2 linked regions of the Homo sapiens genome follow. The protein of the gene in region 1 purifies or fractionates together with the protein of each later gene. This does not show direct contact. Each region holds a gene or a part of one and is shown on either strand. Other genes may lie near its edges.

Evidence for each region.
Region 2: the proteins of ZNF816 (region 1) and NKTR purify together in Homo sapiens (affinity purification with mass spectrometry; 2 studies listed by BioGRID and IntAct, with this or other methods). This does not show direct contact.

The regions. Positions count from the first base shown.
Region 1 is NC_000019.10:52,949,015-52,952,937, reverse strand, and holds the end of ZNF816 (zinc finger protein 816), read left to right. Parts: intron 1-60; coding exon 61-187; intron 188-1,353; coding exon 1,354-3,119; 3' UTR 3,120-3,553; downstream 3,554-3,923. Other genes in the region: ZNF816-ZNF321P (ZNF816-ZNF321 protein), read left to right, coding at 61-187. UniProt on the Homo sapiens protein: May be involved in transcriptional regulation.
Region 2 is NC_000003.12:42,598,897-42,602,819, forward strand, and holds the start of NKTR (NK-tumor recognition protein), read left to right. Parts: upstream 1-1,789; 5' UTR 1,790-1,882; intron 1,883-2,063; exon of another isoform or gene 2,064-2,087; 5' UTR 2,088-2,110; coding exon 2,111-2,168; exon of another isoform or gene 2,169-2,182; intron 2,183-3,923. UniProt on the Homo sapiens protein: PPIase that catalyzes the cis-trans isomerization of proline imidic peptide bonds in oligopeptides and may therefore assist protein folding. Component of a putative tumor-recognition complex involved in the function of NK cells.

The sequences.
Region 1 (3,923 bases):
ACGTGAGGGCAATAACTCACTCCTCCATAATGTTTTGTTGAAACGTGTTTTTTATTTTAGGGACGCTTGACTTTCAGGGATGTGGCTATAGAGTTCTCTTTGGAGGAGTGGAAATGCCTGAACCCTGCACAGAGGGCTTTATACAGGGCTGTGATGTTGGAGAACTACAGGAACCTGGAGTTTGTGGGTGAGGAAAATGTCCCTCCAGACATGAGGAATCTGCACTTGTCTATCTTGGCTCTTTCTGGTTTTATATTCTCTTTTGTGATTTTGCCCCATACATGCTTTTGATGTACATGTCATTGTTTTCTGCGGTGATGACCCTCCTATCTGTCATGGACAGCTTCTTAGAGACTCTTCTTTGGAGTGGTTTTACATAAAAACAGAAAATTCACGAACACTTTGACTAATACAATTGAACATCATCCTGCTCTAGGAAGAGATGTCCCTGGAAGCCCTGAGCAGAATGGTCAGCATGGCCCAGGATACGAGATAGAAAGCATGACACTGATTGACAAGTGTTTCCAGCTGTGCTTGTGGTTTTGTTTTCTTTTTGTTTGTTTGTTTTCAGACAGAGTCTCCCTCTGTTGAACAGACTGGAGTGCAGAGTCTTGATCTCATCTTATTGCAACCTCTGCATCCTGAGTTCAAGCAATTCTTGTACTTCAGCCTCTCAACCTAACTGGAATTACAGGCACATGCCTCCATACCTGGCAGATTTTCATATTTTTATTAGACATAGGGTATCACCATGTTGGCCAAGTTGGTCTTGAACTCCTGGCCTCAAGCAATTTGCCCACCTCAGCCTCGAAGTGTTGGGATTACAGGCGTGAGCCACCATGCTTGGCCTTTCATTCTGGTTTTTGAGAACCATCACAGAAGCATCTCTCACTAGCACTGTGACAGTGTTCATCACATAAACGAATGGTCATCTTCTCTAAGCAGTAGTCACTGCTGTAGAAATTCCTCTTAGGGAGGACATCATTCAGGCTCACTGCCTCATATATATGAGGCTCTTGACTGAACTCTTTTTTTTTTCTACACAGAATTTTGCTCTTGTTGCCCAGGCTGGAGTGCAATGTGGTGATCTCCGCATGCTGCAACCTCTGCCTCCTGGCTTCAAGCAATTCTGCTGCCTCAGCCTCCTGAGTAGCTGGGATTACAGGCACCCACCACCATGACTGGCTAATTTTTGTATGTTCAGTAGAGACAGTGTGTTCTTAAACTATGAAGATCACATTTGGGAAGTTTAAAATAAGTATTGCTTTTTGTGTAATTTTTACACATCTGAATATCAACTATTATTTACCATCTGTACTTAATTGGAAACCTATTGGTCTTTATATTTTTTAGATAGCTCTTTAAAATCCATGATGGAGTTCTCATCAACCAGGCACAGTATTACAGGAGAAGTGATCCACACAGGGACGTTGCAAAGACATAAAAGTCATCACATTGGAGATTTTTGCTTCCCAGAAATGAAGAAAGATATTCATCACTTTGAGTTTCAGTGGCAAGAAGTTGAAAGAAATGGCCATGAAGCACCCATGACAAAAATCAAAAAGTTGACTGGTAGTACAGACCGAAGTGATCACAGGCATGCTGGAAACAAGCCTATTAAAGATCAGCTTGGATTAAGCTTTCATTCGCATCTGCCTGAACTCCACATGTTTCAGACTAAAGGGAAAATTAGTAACCAATTGGACAAGTCTATCGGTGCTTCCTCAGCTTCAGAATCCCAAAGAATTTCTTGTAGGCTCAAAACTCATATTTCTAATAAGTATGGGAAGAATTTCCTCCATTCTTCATTCACACAAATACAGGAAATATGCATGAGAGAAAAACCTTGCCAAAGTAATGAGTGTGGCAAAGCCTTTAATTATAGCTCACTCTTAAGGAGACACCACATAACCCATTCAAGAGAGAGAGAATATAAATGTGATGTATGTGGCAAGATCTTTAATCAGAAGCAATACATTGTATATCATCATAGATGTCACACTGGTGAGAAAACTTACAAGTGTAATGAGTGTGGGAAGACCTTCACTCAGATGTCATCCCTTGTATGCCATCGTAGACTTCATACTGGAGAGAAACCTTACAAGTGTAATGAGTGTGGCAAGACCTTCAGTGAGAAGTCATCCCTTAGATGCCATCGTAGACTTCATACTGGAGAGAAACCTTACAAGTGTAATGAGTGTGGCAAGACTTTTGGTCGAAATTCAGCCCTTGTAATTCATAAGGCAATTCATACTGGAGAGAAACCTTACAAGTGTAATGAGTGTGGCAAGACCTTCAGTCAGAAATCATCCCTTCAATGCCATCATATACTTCACACTGGAGAGAAACCTTACAAATGTGAAGAATGTGACAATGTTTACATTCGCAGATCACACCTTGAAAGACATAGGAAGATTCATACTGGAGAGGGATCATACAAATGTAAGGTTTGTGACAAGGTTTTCCGGAGTGATTCATACCTTGCAGAACATCAGAGAGTTCATACTGGAGAGAAACCATACAAGTGTAATAAATGTGGCAGGAGTTTCAGTCGGAAGTCATCCCTTCAATACCATCATACACTTCACACTGGAGAGAAACCTTACACATGTAATGAATGTGGCAAGGTTTTTAGTCGAAGAGAAAACCTTGCACGTCATCATAGACTTCATGCTGGAGAGAAACCTTACAAATGTGAAGAATGTGACAAAGTTTTCAGTCGCAGATCACACCTTGAAAGACATAGGAGAATTCATACTGGGGAAAAACCATACAAATGTAAGGTTTGTGACAAGGCTTTCCGGAGTGATTCATGCCTTGCAAACCATACGAGAGTTCATACTGGAGAGAAACCTTACAAGTGTAATAAATGTGCGAAGGTTTTTAATCAAAAAGGAATCCTTGCACAACATCAGAGAGTTCATACTGGAGAGAAACCTTACAAGTGTAATGAATGTGGCAAGGTTTTTAATCAAAAAGCAAGCCTTGCAAAACATCAGAGAGTTCATACTGCAGAGAAACCTTACAAGTGTAATGAGTGTGGCAAAGCCTTTACTGGACAGTCAACACTTATTCACCATCAAGCAATCCATGGGTGTAGGGAAACTTTACAAATGTAATGATTGTCACAAAGTCTTCAGTAATGCTACAACCATTGCAAATCATTACAGAATCCATATTGAAGAGAGATCTACAAGTGTAATAAATGTGGCAAATTTTTCAGACGTCATTCATAACTTGTAGTTCATCAGTGAACTCATACTGGAGAGAAACCTTACAAATATCATGACTGTGACAAGGTCTTCAGTCAAGCTTCATCCTATGCAAAACATAGAATTCATACAGGAGAGAAACCTCACAAGTGTGATGATTGTGGCAAAGCCTTTACTTCATGTTCACACCTCATTAGACATCAGAGAATTCATACTGGACAGATGCCTTACAAATGTAAGGGTGGCAAGGTCTTCACTCTGTGGTCATTCCATGCAGAACATCAGAAAATTCATTTTTGAGATAATTGTTCCAAATAAAATGAATATAAAAAATCATAAAACTTTAATTGACATTAGAGTTGATTCAACATTGACTTGAGTTTGAGTTGACTTAACATTGAGTTCACGCATTAATTGACATAAAAAGTGTTAATGTTAAGAAGAATGGGTCAGGTGCAGTGGCTCATGCCTGTTTTCCCAGTACTTTGGGAGGCCAAGGCAGGTAGATCACTTGAGGTCAGCAGTTTGAGACCAGCCTGGCCAACAGACTTGAGCCACTTTACCCAGCCTGTTTTTTATTTTTATTTTTTGAGATGGAGTCTTGCTCTTGTCACTCAGGCTATAGTGCAATGACATGATCTCAGCTCACTGGAACCTTCACCTCCTGCATTCAAGCAATTCTCCTGCCTCAGCCTCCTGAGTAGCTGGGAT
Region 2 (3,923 bases), on another chromosome or scaffold:
TTCACATAATGTGTATATATATCTATAGATCTATAGATATCTAGATATCTGTAGATCTATAGATCTATAGATAGATTTTTTTTGTTTGAGACGGAGTCTCGCTCTGTCACCCAGGCTGGAATGCAGTGGACCGATCTCGGCTCACTGCAAGCTCTGCCTCCCAGGTTCACGCCATTCTTCTGCCTCAGCCTCCCGAGTAGCTGGGACTACGGGCGACCGCCACCACGCCCGGCTAATTTTTTGTATTTTTAGTAGAGAAAGGGTTTCACCGTGTTAGCCAGGATGGTCTCGATCTCCTGACCTCGTGATCCGCCTGCCTCGGCCTCCCAAAGTGCTGGGATTACAGGCATGAGCCACCACGCCCGCCCATGTAATGTGTATTTTATAGTTTAAAAAAAAAACTTATAAAATAGTGTGGTACTCAGACACAGATCATTGGAACAAAAATCCAGAAACAGACCCACACATATATGGTCACAAGGCGAAGGTAATTCAATGTATAAGAGTCTTTTCAGGCCGGGCGCGGTGGCTCACGCCTGTAATCCCAGCACTTTGGGAGGCCGAGGCGGGCGGATCACGAGGTCAGGAGATCGAGACCATCCCGGCTAAAACGGTGAAACCCCGTCTCTACTAAAAATACAAAAAATTAGCCGGGCGTAGTGGCGGGCGCCTGTAGTCCCAGCTACTTGGGAGGCTGAGGCAGGAGAATGGCGTGAACCCGGGAGGCGGAGCTTGCAGTGAGCCGAGATCCCGCCACTGCACTCCAGCCTGGGCGACAGAGCGAGACTCCGTCTCAAAAAAAAAAAAAAGAGTCTTTTCAACAAACGGTAATGGAACGACTGTATATCCCAATAGGAAAATGTTGACACTTACTTGACAACATAAGCAAAAATTAATGATATTAGATCATATCATAGACTTACACGTTAAAGACTATGTAAAACATATATGAGAACACAGAATATCTTCAAGAACTTGAGGTAGGCAGAGATTTCCTAGCACAGGAAAAGCACAAACCATTAAAATATAAAACTGACCAATTGACTTAATCAGAATTAAAAACTTCTTTGCCAAAAACGTCAAAACAATGAAACGACAGGCCCAGATTGGGAAAAAGACTTCGCAATCATTTATGTAACAAAAGATTTTCATTCAGAGCATACATATATCTAACAAAACATTTGTATCCAGAACTGTTAAACACGAAGGACCAGATTTAAAAACGGGCAGAAGACTGGAACTGAAACTTCACAAAAGATGCAGAATGGTCAGTAAGCACAGGACAAAAACGGTGCCAGTGACGCTGGTGCCAAAGCGGGAAGGAACGCATTCTTCAGCCTAAAAGACCTAACAGTAGGACACGGACATAACCACTCCCGGCCAAAAAGAACACAGAGCAACACAACGTCTTGGCTAACGAAAACTCAAAGCCTCAATTCACTCAGTTCCTTCACAGCGCTCGGAAACAGAGAAGTCTCGCGGTATCGGAAAATGCGCGGCGCTCACAGCCACACCTGACGAGATGGAGGGCGCAGGCGCATCCACGGCTTTCAGATTGGGCGACTGACTTCAAAGGGGGGGGCAAACAGGGAACGCGCAGGTATAGGAGCGCTGGCTGGAGGCTCCTCGAGAGCTCCCCAGACACGCCCCCGTGCGTACGCCCCCGTGCGTACGCCCCCGCTGCCGCCACCTTCGGTTGACCACCCCCATCTAGACTGTACTCTCGCGGTATTTGTCCCGACTCTCGCGGGGTTTAGCGTGGCATTGGGAGGCCCGGCCTGGGGGAGGAGACGGCGTTCCGTTAGCGGCGTTGGGGTTTGGCTGCAGTGGCAGTGCTTTCTCTTCTGCTCACGGGGACCCGCTCAGGCTGGAGGCCAGCCAGGTGAAGAGCTCGCCCGCATGCGTGCGCGCTGCGTGGGAGCCGCGAGGCCCGGGGCGGGAGGGGGCCTCGTCTTGGCCTCCTGCGCTGTCGCGACGGGCCGGCGTGAGGCACCGTGGCGCGGACTTCGTCTCAGCCCCGCCCTCGCCCCTGCCCTCGCCCCCGCCCTCGCCCCTGCCCTGACCGCTTTTCTCCCCCTCTCTCCCAGCTCTTGCCGCCACCTCGGTCGCGATGGGGGCGCAGGACCGGCCGCAGTGCCACTTCGACATCGAGATCAACCGGGAGCCGGGTGAGCTGGAAACTGGGGAGCGCTGCTGGGGCCGAGGCCTGCCTTGGCGAAGGGGAGGGGTCTACCCTCAGCAACCCTCCCCCGGCCTTTTTGGGAGCGGGTAGGAGGCGCAGGCAACTTTCCGTTTTCTCTTGAGAGAAAATCAGTGGGAGAGGAAGGTGGCCTGGGCACACCCCTAACTCGCAGTCCGGGCCTCTTCCTGCCAAACCCCACACACCCCGCTGCATCTCCGGACTGAGTCCTCGTAGCCAGCCTGGCGCCAAGAAAAGGAGGTGCAGTTCTTTGAGGACTTTTTCTCTCCCAGTGTCTCCGTGAGGCAGACACTCCCGATCCGATTTCCGGTTATCTTGCTTGGTGCTATGAAGTTTCAACTAGTAGGAAATATTGTGTGTTTCCTAATCACGATATATCACTAATATGTTAATTTTGCCTCTATTTTTCCTTAAGAATCTTTAGCTAGAATTTCGTGGTTCCTGGGAAAATGGCTTAGTGAAGATCTTTTGTGATAAACCAGAGCATTTTGTACCAGCAGAATTGCAGCATGCATGCACTTAGCATTAATGTTTGTCTTTAGGGAATCCAGACATTTGTTAGTGTATTTTTTTTAAATGAAACATTTCCTTCTAAAGCATAGTTATTTCATTCTAAGTAGCAGAGCGTGCAGGGTTTCAAACTGTTTTCTTAGCTTTTTTTGTTATCCGTGACAAAAGTTTTAATTGGAGACATATATATATGTGTTGTCTTTGTGCAACATCTTGTTCTGCATATTCTTATGAGAGCCTGCTACTGTTCTAGGGTCTGGAGATAGAGCAGCGCATAAAACAAAGGCCTCTTCCTTTTATAGTTTATATTCTATTGGGGGGAAGACGGACAACTAGGAAAAAAATAACAGTGACTTGTAGTTGGGATACTATTTTAATAAGTTGGTCAGACAAGGCCATTTTGAGAAGATGAGATTTAAGCAGGTATCAGAAGGAGATGAAGTGAGCCGTATTTAAGAAGAGCATTCGTGGTAGAGGGAAACAGCACAGCCCTGAGGTGAGGAGTAGTATACAGTCAGGCGCCAAATGACATTTCTATCTTTAACAATGGTCTTATATATAATACCTTTTTTTGGTAACTTTTTAATGTTTAGCTGTGTTTAGATATACAAATACTTCATTGTGTTAAAGTTGCCTACGGTATTCAGTGGAGTAACATCCTGTACAGGTTTGTAGCCTAGGAGCAAATAGACTATATAGCTTAGGTGTGTAGTAGGCCGTACCATCTAGGTGTGTTTAAATACATTCCATGATGTTCACACAATGACGAAATTGCCTAATTACACATTTCTCAGAATCCGTCCTGGTTATTAAACAATGGAGGACTGTACTTGCATGTTTGAGGGACAGCAGGGTGCCCAGTGTGGCTGGAGTAGAAGAGGAAAGAGAATAGTAAGAAATGGCCTGTAGGACTGACTCAGTGAGGTAGGAAGATATTAAAGGGTTTCGAGCAAAGGGATGAGATAATCCTGGAAATTTGGTTGCCTTCTCTCTCTTTTTAATGTTTTTAGCCTTGATTGATCTTTTTTTTTTTTTTTTTTAAATAAGTGTTACTAGAAAGCCTTGATGGACCTTAATCTTTATTTTGTAGTGAATCCATGCTTTAGATAACAGGGTTATTTTCTATTAAGAATTAAAAATAGCTCACGCCTGTAATCCCAGCACTTTGGGAGGCAGACGCGGGTGTATCATTTTGAGGTCAGGAGTTCGAGAC